2 linked regions of the Homo sapiens genome follow. The protein of the gene in region 1 purifies or fractionates together with the protein of each later gene. This does not show direct contact. Each region holds a gene or a part of one and is shown on either strand. Other genes may lie near its edges.

The links. Proteins that work in one complex are often made in the same cells at the same time.
Region 2: the proteins of GDF10 (region 1) and ZNF507 purify together in Homo sapiens (affinity purification with mass spectrometry; 2 studies listed by BioGRID and IntAct, with this or other methods). This does not show direct contact.

Annotation. Positions count from the first base shown.
Region 1 is NC_000010.11:47,306,697-47,310,196, forward strand, and holds part of GDF10 (growth/differentiation factor 10 preproprotein), read left to right. Parts: intron 1-3,099; coding exon 3,100-3,500. UniProt on the Homo sapiens protein: Growth factor involved in osteogenesis and adipogenesis. Plays an inhibitory role in the process of osteoblast differentiation via SMAD2/3 pathway. Plays an inhibitory role in the process of adipogenesis.
Region 2 is NC_000019.10:32,348,610-32,352,109, reverse strand, and holds part of ZNF507 (zinc finger protein 507), read right to left. Parts: intron 2,997-3,500; exon of another isoform or gene 2,757-2,996; intron 1-2,756. UniProt on the Homo sapiens protein: May be involved in transcriptional regulation.

The DNA of each region.
Region 1 (3,500 bases):
CGGGAGCCCAGGGGACCCATTGTGGGAGGTTCCATTTGAGCAGATACCTGAAGAGGTTGAGTGGTACTGGATGGGGAACCATGAAGGTGGAAGGAAGCGTGAGGCACAGTCCTGAGAATAAAGCCACATGTTGGAAGGAGAAGAACGCCAGTGTGACGGGGGCAGAGGGGTGGGGTTGGGCTGTGGATAGGAGATAAAGTTGCAGAGGTAGGCAGGCCAGATCAAGTAAGGCCTTGGTAAGGGGTTGAGTTTTATTTGGGGCAATGGAGGGCTCCGAGCTTGGGGGGTGACCTGTGATGGAATGCACCCAGCACACCGGGGGCCTCGCTTGGACAGTGCTCTTTAAAACTGTGACATGAGGAGACACTGAAGACGGGTGTCATTGCCATTACCAGTCTGTCTCCCCTCTAGGCTGAACTCCTCCTGGGCAACTTTGTTATCTGTCTCCCCTCTAGGCTGAACTCCTCCTGGGCAACTTTGTTATGACCCTGGTCAGCCCAACTTAGCCTGGAGTAGGAGTTTTGCAAATCTTTATCAGGAAAACAAAGAGAAGAAGAGGAAGAAAGAAAGGAAAAGAGGGTGGATAGAAAAGGGGAAAGAGGGGAAGAAAAGAGAGGAGGGAGGAAGGCAGAGAAGAAAGAAGAGAGAAAAGACATGAATCACAGAGCACCAGCACGCATCAGAGGAAATAATGACGTTCTCTTCAATGCTTCTCTCTTATGGCTTGGGCTCGGCTAAACTGAAAGATTTCAGGTTGAGGTCCCTTCTCTGAGCCACAGCCTGGAGCCCCCTGCACTGCGTACATGCAGAAACATCCAGAGAGAGGACCAGCCTGTGGTCCCTCATGCACTGGGGCTGGGGGTGACCCATCTTGTCCCCAGCAGTCCCCAGCAGGGAGGGTCTTCCCAGAGCAGGCTGCCCAGTGAGGGCTGAGCTCCCTCTGGCAGGAGGCATTCAAGCCACATGGAGGTAGGACTTATACCCTTTTGCACAACCTCAAAGGTTCCTCCCCACTCTGAATCTGTTAGCAGAACAATGGAGGAGTTGAGACTTGAACTGGATCAAAGAAAAACAATGTGCTGTGTTGGCTGGGTTGCAGCTCAGATATTTGGATCAGTGAATGCAAGGTACCCCAGTTGATGGAGGGGAGCTTGCTCTGCCAGCCTTGGTCCTTTAGATTCAAGAGGCAGAAAGCACATTTGGGGGCACCTCCTTTGTACCTGGCACTTCACTAGGCTGTTTCTGTGATCTTCCAGACAATCCTCTGTGTGAGATGGAGGCTGTTGTCCCTGTGAGGCAGATGGGGAAAGCAAGGTTCAGGGCGTGGCGCCACTGAGTCCTGGGAGCTTGGTTCCTAGGGCATTTTCTAGCTTGGGGATGGGGGGGTGCAACATTATTGGTGAACTTTCACCCCATCCATCGGTCAACCCCAGATGCTGCAGATACACCACCGCTACCACCGGAGTGAGCTATCAGCTGCCACTGACTTCCCAAACTTCCCTGATGGCCAGAGTCCCCTGGAGTGCTGATTAAAATGTGGAAGTCATTGTTATGCAGTCAAGGCCACATGCTTGGGGAAGCCAGGTTCAAGTGTGCATTGAGACCCTGGGCTGCTGCTTATGTGTGGAGCATGTTGAGGGGCTGTGACACTGTCCTGGCAGGTTTGTTGTGAGGATTAAATAAGGTAATGGCTTCAGTGCCACCTGAGCCTTTACTGGCATTTATTTATCAGGCCTTCCATAGATGTGCTTCTCTGTTTCTTCCCGCTCATAGTCCCTTAAGAGTATGTGAACAATCCCAGTTGAATTATGCCTTCTTCCCAACAGAAACAAAGAAGAGAAAGTGGAATATTTCTGTTAAAAAAAAAAATCCCTGCAGATGCTGTAGGTACAGGGGTCAGAGAGGTGTGGCCCTGACCCATGCCCCTAGAGAGCCCAGTGTCCCCCACACACACTTCCCGGGCTTGGGAGCCCTGCTCCTCTCCAGACGTTCCCCAGCAGAAGGACACTTCGTTGTCAGGAAATGAAGCAGTGGAAAGGAGAAAGCCAGCCTGGCCTCTCTGGTGTCCTGTTAGTGTGCGGCATCCTAGGGAGGCACCAGGAAAGACTCCCCACTCCTCAGAAGCCTAGAGCGGACTTGGCCATTTGAGAACGCTCACTGATATATAATAATGTTTAGGCGATTCAAACCTGACACAATACTCATGCTGCTGCCAAGGTTGGGGCAGCTTCCTGGGACTGCTGACATGGCTGTGCTGCCCTGGTGCCCTGGGGAACGCCTGCTTCCACCAGGCAAATAGGAAGGAGTGGCCGGCAGCCCCAGGGAAGCCGGAGCTGGAGCATTCTTGAACCAAGTTGCAGATGTAATGGTTGAGACGTCCCGGTCTTTACCTGGACCTTGGAGATTTAGTCAGGTTGCCTTGTGTAATCCTGATGCTGCTCTTTTCTTGTTAAAACAATCTTAAAAGTCCTCAGGCAGAACAAAGAGCAGATGCCTAAATGGCTGTACTTTTGATCCTGGTTTCCCTTAGGAGGTGCTCAAAAAGCATGAGCGTTTATTTATTTCGTCTCTTTTGGAAGAATGTTTGGGTTTAATGTGAAGTGTATTTAATGATTGCATTTAAAAACTGATTGCATAAATAGAGGGCTGTGCAAATACAGGAGGGGCTGCCTTGATGCAGGGCTTGGACCCAACCCAAGCCATCCTGAGCACTTAATGAAGGTGTCAGTGACATTTGTTCATTTGTGCATGCAGAGGCAGTAGAGGGCAGGGGGAGCAAACAGGAGCTTTGGAGTCCAGCAGGCCCGAATGCCTCCCTGTCTGCCCCTATTTCTTTGCTGTTGCTTTTTGTTGTTGTTGTTGTTTGCTACGGGATATTGACAATCTCAACCTTAATTCCTCACCTGTGCACTGAGGATTGCAAAGGGCGCCCTCATCAGTTTCATGTGAGGATTACACGAAAGGAGGGAAGCAAAGCGGGGGAGGAGGATGGTCCTGAAAGTGTGGATCGGTGGGCGTTTGCTCCTCCAGCCCTGGGTGGGAGACCCTCAGGAGCACGAGCGAGAACTTCACAGCCTGTGGTCTCTCCTTCCCTCACAGAAGTGGTCGACCAGAAGGCCGTGTATTTCTTCAACCTGACTTCCATGCAAGACTCGGAAATGATCCTTACGGCCACTTTCCACTTCTACTCAGAGCCGCCTCGGTGGCCTCGAGCGCTCGAGGTGCTATGCAAGCCGCGGGCCAAGAACGCTTCAGGCCGCCCGCTGCCCCTGGGCCCGCCCACACGCCAGCACCTGCTCTTCCGCAGCCTCTCGCAGAACACGGCCACACAGGGGCTACTCCGCGGGGCCATGGCCCTGGCGCCCCCACCGCGCGGCCTGTGGCAGGCCAAGGACATCTCCCCCATCGTCAAGGCGGCCCGCCGGGATGGCGAGCTGCTCCTCTCCGCCCAGCTGGATTCTGAGGAGAGGGACCCGGGGGTGCCCCGGCCCAGCCCCTAT
Region 2 (3,500 bases), on another chromosome or scaffold:
CTATTACTCATATCCACATATATGGTTTTTTTTTTTTTCCCTGAAAGGGTAAGGGACATCAGAGAAGGAAAAAATTGATATCCCAGTTGTGTTTCAGTTCCAGATATGAACAGAGTCCTTAGAAGAGGTTATTTGTTCGTTCTAATAATGCATTATGGCTGAGGAAGTCACTAAACATAAAATACCCATAAATCTTTCTGCCTAAGTCTAGAATACTCTTTCTATTTCCTGGCAGTACTTTCATTTCAAACATTTCCTTTGGCTTAAAGTGAGATTAATTTGTTGACTTGGATCACATTTTTAAGTTTAGGCTTTTTTCCAGCAACAAGTTTTGTTTTTCCACATTTTAGGTGCATTCTGGAATCTTACTCACAACATTCAATAAATGCCAACAAAATTTTTAGTGGCACTAGCTATAGACCAAAGACCACACTATTCTTAAACTTCAGTCCCAGGCTCTGAATTCTTATTTTAGGTGGTGAATCATGGCTGTTCTTCCCCGCATGGTTGAATCAACATATAAGGGCCCTTCAGCCCCTGCCAAGATGATACCTAATGTCCTGCCAGGCCCCGCCCGCCCCCACGCCACACACACACACATATACACAAACACAAAAACAGGCCCCGCCCCCCCACGCCACACACACACACACACACACACACACACACACACACACACACACACACACAGCTGACCAGCTTCAGTGCCAGGTCGCCCACAACTCTGGGCAGCAGCTATGGCTTTTCTTCCTGATTTTCTACTCCTTCTGGCAAGCCAGCTTTCTAGATCTAGGTCCACATCAGGCAAAAATGCAAACACTTTACTCTTGGCTTCTTCAGTACTATTTCTTCCCTTCTTCCTAATAATACTCTGCCCTATGGCATCAGCTTTTTTTCTCTTGGCTACTAGCTGTCTCTAACTGCCCTCACATGCATTCCATGGCCATTCCAACAATGACAGCTACCCTGGCTCCCAAAGGCCCGTGGTCCTTCAGCCACTCTCCCTTAAACAATCTCTCAAAAGACTAGTTCTGTTTCATCTTTCTCAGGTAGAAGGAACAAAAGTCTTTTTAGATCTCTACGCTCAGCTGTAAGTCATTAAAGAGGAGACCAATGGGGGAACAATTTGTTTCCTTAGAAAAACCCTTTTGTGACTTCCTAAGTCACTTTATTGTCTTAGAATTCCACATTTTTAGGCCAAGAGGAGCTGTGGCTCTTCATGTGACTACTGATTTCCCTTTAAGGTGATTAACTTAAGGCCTTATGTCTGTCAGTTCAATGGTTAAATGCAAATTGATTAAATAATAAGTTTAATAATAGGAATCCTCCTGAACACGATACGGCTCTCTGCTGTAGATCTAAGGTCTCCTTCCCCATGAAATGTAACACCCATGTAGGCTGACTGATCATCTGGAGGTTAACAAGTGAATGTTTGCTCAAGAGACTTTGCACACCCGTAGGGTTACAAAGGTGACTCATGTTATCTTTCTTCTACTTAATAAGAGAAGTGACACAGACCAGTGCAAATTGCTCCCTGTGGATATTTCAGTGTGTACCTTAAAAAGAAAGTGAAATGAAGAGAAGGAGGAGTTCATCTTAACTCAAGAAAAAGACTAATACAAAAGAATCTGACAAAACATTCAGATTTTTAAAGCTGTGTCGGCTCAGGCATTAAGAGCTAATGGAAATTTGCAGCAGATGCTCCAATTTTCCCTGAACATTTATGTAAGTATCTCATTTTAAAGGCTGCATACATTTGGGGATAAGTACAGTAATGGCAGCTATAAAACAGATATGACAACATGAAATACGTCAGGAAACACCTGAAAAACCAGTTTGGGTCCCCATGCAAAATCAATGCACAGGTTAATCTCATAAAAACAAGTCTCTGTTAAAAAAAAAAAAAAAAGGTTAGATAAACAGCTGATAATAAAGTATACACAGAGGGGAAGTTACTGTAAGGCCAACTCTTTCAATTTTCACAAAAATGTTACTTAGACCACTAATGCAGAAATACATATATATGAGATTGTGTGTCAAGTGAAGCAAATCTGAACAAAAGAGATGAAATAAGGAGTATACATACAATGTCAGTGGCTCAATAGTGATGACAACATAAACTATGACAATCTGCATACTCTCCTTGGCCTCCAAGAGATCAGTGTAAGCACAGCTTTAAAACAATTACCTTGGTGATACTGCAGTGGTGGGGTGGATAGGATGAGAATAAAGAAAGAATGACTAATTCTGTAATTGAAGTTGCATGATGAGTACCTAGGAATTCACTGTTCTTTCTACTTATGTAAATGTTTAACATTTTTCATAATAAAAAGGCTAAACAGATCATAATAAAGTATACACAGAGGGGAAGTTACCTTAAGGCCAATCCTTCAACTTTCTTGATTCCTTAAAATCACAGAAATTTTATTTAGACCACTAATGCAGAAATACAAATATGTGTGTGTGTGTAACAAACAAATTGTTATGTGCAAGGCGCAAGGCAAAGTATCAGGAAAAATTTTAAATTCTTAATACTTGCAGTTTAAAACTGAGTTGAGTGGATAAGGCAAACATTTGGAAGTTAAAAAGTAACAGCATTTAAACAACGCAATGGTACACAAGGTAAAATAAAAGGCAACAGTCAATGACTAAATCCTGAAAGATACTGAAGAGCTCTTTTGGGCTAGCAAGGTAAGCAAAAGCTTCATGGAGAGGTAAGATGTCCACTGGTTCCCAAAGGATGGGCAGCATGCCAGACATCATCCATTTGCCCTCTAGGCTCACTGTATCCTCCTTTCCATTCTGCTCTCTGTCAGAGGGATTACATCACTAGGCTCCCCTGTCCTCTGCCTTCTGGTTGAGGTCAGCCAATGAAGAACCATGACAGATCAGAGGGAGGTAGCAGAGTGAGATCAGAATATTCATCGTCCTGGTTCTCTACCTCTAGGTCACCTTGGATTGGCTGTGTTCCTCAATAGAAGGCTATTTCTTTCCAGGTAGGCTGCTCTCCAAGACCCTTCTTCTGATTCTGATGCCTCTCCCTCTCCTAATGCTGCTAGCTCCAGATAACTGCATTATGCTGTGGTTTGCTTATTGAAGTCCAACACCTTTATTACTAATATCTTTGTAAATATACCTTCCTTGAATTATCCTCATTTCAACGTGCCATTTGCTTCCTTGGAATACTGCTGATACAAGTTGACACAAGGGTAGCAGTGACCAGAAAAGCAGCCATGACATGACTATATTTTTAGAAGTAAGAATAAGCATGCTATCTGGGGGTGAGTGAAAAGATCGATATGGCTGAATAGGAAAGTTCACCAGGAGGAAAGAAGACGACAGGCATTAGCAAAACAGGAGATTTCTTGTTTGTAATGTTTAGACATAACAACATTAAATATATTAAATTGTTACCAATAAATAAGTAATAAACAAAAGTTGTATCCCAAACCAGAAAAGTTCTATAACCCTTTCCACCAACTCTCTCAAATCTTTCCTTG